Linked DNA regions of Homo sapiens: region 2 is linked to region 1. The links come from fine-mapping of genetic effects on gene expression. Tissue or cell type: cerebellar hemisphere. Region 1 holds a variant in brackets; the other region holds the start of a gene. All regions are shown on one strand. Distances are from middle to middle.

The links. PIP is the estimated chance that this variant, and not a neighbour inherited with it, causes the effect.
Region 2: it holds the start of SMARCB1, and the variant in region 1 is fine-mapped to the expression of SMARCB1 in cerebellar hemisphere (GTEx, PIP above 0.99).

The regions. Positions count from the first base shown.
Region 1 is chr22:23,822,024-23,824,780 of GRCh38, reverse strand. The region is part of intron 6 of SMARCB1 (SWI/SNF related BAF chromatin remodeling complex subunit B1); the gene reads right to left. Among named protein-coding and RNA genes, the nearest start is that of DERL3, 16 kb to the left of the region's middle. RefSeq lists an enhancer at 1-98. The variant C/GGAGTCTC (reference allele first, on the strand shown) is at 1,089.
Region 2 is chr22:23,785,677-23,788,176 of GRCh38, reverse strand. It overlaps SMARCB1 (SWI/SNF related BAF chromatin remodeling complex subunit B1), which reads right to left and starts at 1,211. Exons shown (of 9, transcript NM_003073.5): 1 at 915-1,211. The coding sequence starts at 1,007.

The sequences.
Region 1 (2,757 bases):
AAACCCTGCCTAGCGTGTTCACAGATGCACCCCACTCTGGGTCAACACGGTGAGGGGACAGGGAAGCCTGCAGGGATCACAGTGCTGGGCCAGCTCCTCCACATTCCCCAGAGGACTCCCTGCAGCACGTGACTCACAGCCAGAGGGCCCAGGCCCCGGGTGTGCTGTCAGGGGTTTTCCACTAGTGGACACCTGGGAAGCCAGCACCCAGCTGAGAGAACACAGACTGTACCCCAGGGGCTCCCACCTACACCTGCCCCCCTGGGGAGGCACCATTTTGACTTCTCACCCCTTGAGTAGGTGTGGCTGTTCTGAATAGGATGGACACTTCGGGGTCCAGGTTCATTCACTCTGCATCATGCTTGCAAGACTCCTCCCATTAGAGTGTGGGGCTGGGGTCATCCCTCACTGCTATCCAGTGCTCCACAGGGCAACCAGGTCACAGTGCACCTGCCCATTCATTGTTGGCCCTTAGCTTTTAAGTCAAGGATCAGGGTGGGCAGCTGCAGGGAAAACTCACCACTGCCTCGGAGTCCAGCCCTTCCGGGGACTTCTGCCTCCTTTTAGAGATTAGGGTACCCCAATCCCCGATCATGTTCATAAAGCCCTGTGCCTCTGAGCCCTGCACATCACCACCCACTTGCTAGAATGCTCTTCCCCTCACCTGGCAGGACCAGCCTCTTCTCAGCATCCTGGTCTAAGCTAAAGTGCCAGCTCCTGAGAGCTCCCCTTCCCATCAGCCCCTTTCCACACCCTTCTCTCCATTTTCTCCCCCTTTGGAGACAGGATGTCACTCTGTCACTCAGGCTGGAGTGCAATGGCATGATCATGACTCACTACAGCCTTGAACTCCTGGGCTCAAGAGACCCTTCTGCCTCAGCCTCCTGAGTAGCTGGAACTACGGACATGCACTACCATGTCTGGCTAATATTTTGTAGAGACAAGGTTTCTACAAGGCCCAGGCAATGTATCAAGTGTTTTGGGCAGAGAAGAGACCCTGTGGTTGAGCCTTCTGTTCCCCGCAGGCTTCCCTGCTGCCTCTCTGTGTTGGCCCAGGCTGGCCTCAAAAGATCCTCCCCCGAGAGTCT[C/GGAGTCTC]CTGAGTAGCTGCGACTATACGTGCGGGCCACCATGCTGGCACCTCTCCTATTTTCTTCACAGCACTTAGGACTGTCTGAAACAATCTGAATCATTTGCCTCCAGGAATTCTAGCACAGGCAGGGTGTATTTGTTCTGGGAATGAAGGAATCCTCACGCAGAGGGAGGAAGCCGAGGGCAGAGCTGCAGTGTCCTGTACACGGCATGCAGCCAGGCAATGGGGACTGCAGTCGGGCCCCCATGTCCTTTGCTATCTCCACATACGCCCACGCCTGATGATGAATGGAATCGGAGGCACTGGCCCTTCCCAACTGGAATCTAATGCCAAGCAAACCACGTGGGTGCTGGGTCCAAAAAGAACGTGCAGCAGCAGACAGCCCATGGAACCACCCAACAGGACCCCATAGGACCATAGGCACATGGCTCCCACCCAGCAAGCCCTCCCTGCCCTGGGCTCATGGATGGAGTTGCCTGTCCCCTGCCATTCAGTCACTAACACATTCATTTATTCCAAAGTCTAGACTGTGTGTCTACCAAGGAGAGGCACAAGAGAGACAAACATTCAAAAGGCTGTTCTGAGAAAGGTGAGGTGGTACATGTCTGTAGTCTCAGTTACTTGGGAGGCTGAGGTGGGAAGATCACTGGAGCTCAGGTGTTTGAGTCCAGCCTGGGCAACACAGCGAGACTCTGTGTCAAAAAAAAAAAAAAAAAAAAAAAAAAAAAAAAAAAAAAAAAGCTATGCTGGTGGGGGCACTGACAGACACTAAGTAGGTTAAGTGAGCATGTGGTGTACCAGAAAGCACGGGAGTGCCAGGGAGGAAAGGGAGGGAGGGGGAGAAAGTCCAGGCTGGCCTCAGAAGTCAGGAGGCCAGGAAGGCTTCTAGGAAGGTGGCCTTTAGGAAGAAGTGAATGTGCCCAGGGAGCAGGAATGTGGCTCCCTGGGGGAGAACAGTCCCAGGTGGGGGACACAGAGATGTAAAAGACTGAGGAGCCAAGGTCTGGTACCCGGATCTGCCCAGTGAGGGGAAAAGGGAGGAGATGAGGGTGGCGAGGGACTGTAGCAGAGAGCAGTTAGGGCCCTGAGGCCTTTGGACAGGCTTGGCTTCCACAGAGGGATGTGGGAAGCTTCTGCGGTATTTTGGGCAGACAAGAGACATGGGCTGAGCTGCCATGCTGAGACCTCTACTGGAAGGCGGGGAGGGAGGAAGGGAGCCATCTGGCAGTGGCCTTGGTGGGGTAGTGAGGAGTGCTGGACTCCAGGTGGACTCACAGAGCTAAGACGGGGCCAGGACTCCCAAGCAGGTGCACAGCAGGGCCAGGCCCCTGCCCACCTCCCCAGCCCTGACTCACATCTCACCCCATGCACTCTCTGGACGGGGCCTGGACAGTGCCACAGGGTCTGATGGCTCAAACTGCAGCAGCACCATGTCCCCAGCTTCCTCCCCTGCCCCCCAACCCCTGCTGGAACTGGGCAAAGCCGACTTGGGCCAGGTGCCCTGGCAAGGGCAGCCAGGCCTGGGCTTTGGTCCCAGCATTGCCAAGAATATCTGGAAGATGCTGCTCTAACCTAAGGCACTCTTTCTGAGGAGAGAGATGGTCCTCATGTGCCATGGCTCCAAAGATTCTTGTTTTCCTTCAGTCATGTTCCAGGATCAAGACAAAGGACGTC
Region 2 (2,500 bases), 36 kb after region 1:
TATGGCCGGGTGTGGTGGCTCATGCCTGTAATCCTAGCACTTTGGGAGACCCAGACGGGCAGACTGCTTGAGCCCAGGAGTTGGAGACCTGCCTGCGCAACATAGCCAGACCCTGTCTCTATAAAAAACAAAAAACAAGAACCTAATAGACTTGGAACAAACACCCATTCAAAGGCCAGTAGAGTTTTCCTGAAGTCAGTCATCCAGTTGATGCAACAAAATGCAGCCACTCTAGTTAAGGGTTAAACATCCTTAGGCTCTTTCCCCTGTAATAATTCAGAATCAGTTCACAGATATGGAAAGTGTCAATCGCTTCAGAACTGCTGAAAGATCTAGCTTAGGCATGGGGCCCTTATTCACCCAAAAGCAAACATCTTCCTCCAATCTGTTTCTTCACCGGTAAACAAAGGTCAAAAGACCTCCACTGCTCACCTAAGAGGCAACAAACACAATGGGGATGAGCCCTCACTAAGTCCAGGGTTTCCAGCCTGCCATTTGAGGTTCCCACAAGTAGCAATACGGGGAGGGGTGCACGTGAAATTTACGACATCTAAAAAGGGTCAAAGGCAGCAGTGCAGTCCCCCAAGCGTCGCAGGGGCTAACTCAATATCCCGTTTCTTTGCGTCTGACTGGAAACCAACCCAGCGCGGAACCACTGGGGCCCCTCGCGGCGCCAAAATCTTGGCAGCACTGAAGGCGGCGGACCTCGGCGAAATAAGTAAGGAAATCCCAGGTCGATGAGGGGGCGGGGGCCACACCCGACACGCCCACTAGGCCACGCCCCACAGCCCCGAGCGCGCGCGCGCGCGCCCGCCCGCCCCGATGAATGGAGACGCGCGCTCTCGGCGCATGGGCCCGCCCCGGGGCTCCCGCGGGGCCGAGCCCGGGGAGGGCGAGAACGCGCCCCGGGCTACCTCGGAGCCGATCATGTAGAACTCGCCGTCGTCCTCCAGCTGGAACTTCACGGGCTTCTGCCCGAAGGTCTTGCTCAGCGCCATCATCATCATTGCGGCGGCAGAGGCGGGCGGCCGGAGCCGGGCTGCGAGGGATCAGGAGGGCTGGGGCGGGGCCGGGGCGTGCTGGGCCGAGGGAAACCGAAGCCGGAAGGCGAAATGCGGACCGGGCCGGGTACTGGCGCCTCAGCCGGGCTCCTCAGCCGCCGCCGCCGCCGCAGACGACGACCAGGCCGCCCTCAGTGCGCAGGCGCTGGCGTTGACGCTGACGCGCGCGCCGCCGCTCAAACAAAAGGCCGGGCGCGCCTCCGCGGACCCCTTAAAGGAGCCACGACTAATTTCTCTTTCTCCCAGGCTGCCTCCCAAGTCGTGGTGTAGAGGACTTCTCACGGACAAAAATAGCCAATGAGGTCCTGACTCAAGCAGTGGCTTTCCCAGTCTTACAGCCAGGACTGGAACTGAGCCCAGGGGAAAAGCAACGAAGTGAGGCCTGAAGGAGGAGGACCTAGTATCTGGAAGCCTGGGTGGTCTGGGCATGCTTTGGGACCCCAATCTCGTGCCTTAGCTTCCCCACCCCTAAAACGCAGTGCAGCTGAGCAGATAGGCAGGCCCCTAGGAAGAGATATCCCAGTTCCGGGCCTACGGCTGTCCCTGCAGCTGTGGAGGTGGGCAAAATGACAACAGCGGATGAGGCTTGGCAATGTTCAAAGGCCCAGGTGGTATTTGGTTTGGCTGGTGCATCAGATGAGCGTTGGAAGGGAGAGACACCTTCCACCTTCTCCATTCCTCTCTTAGCCTACACTCTGCTTAACCGAGCCCTGCAGTGGGGAGTGAAACCAGGCAGCCCAGCCCTGTGGCTCTGCCTCTTGGCTCTTACAGCGCGAAGCTAGTGAAACTAATGAAAGTCTGAAAGCAATCATGATTGAATAATGCAGGGAGTAAAACAGTGGCCCACTACTGATGATTTCACACCGTTCAATCTAATGAAATTGCAGCTGTGGCTGGGCTCAGCGGCTCATGCCTGTAATCCCAACTCTTTTTTTTTTTTTTGAGGCTGGAGTCTCCTGCCTCAGCCTCCCAAGTAGCTGGGACTACAGGCACCCGCCACCACGCCCAGCTAATTTTTTGTATTTTTAGTAGAGACAGGGTTTCACCATGTTAGCCAGGATGGTCTCGATCTCCTGACCTCGTGATCCGCCCCCCTCGGCCTCCCAAAGTGCTGGGATTACAGGTGTGAGCCACTGCGCCCGGCCTTGTAATCCCAACTCTTTAGGAGGCCAAGGCAGGGAGGATCACTTGAAGCCAGGAGTTTGAGACCAGACTGGACAAGACAGCAAGACCCTGTCTCTACAAAAATTCTAAAATAAATAAGCTGGGTGTGGCATGGCGGTGTGCACCTGTAGCCCCAGCTACTTGGGAAGTGGAGAGGGGAAGATCCCTTGAGCCCAGGAGTTCAAGGTTATAGTGAGCTGATTGCACCACTGCACTGCAGCCTGGGCAACAAAGGGAGACCCTGCCTCTCTTAAAAAAAAAAAAAATGCAACTAT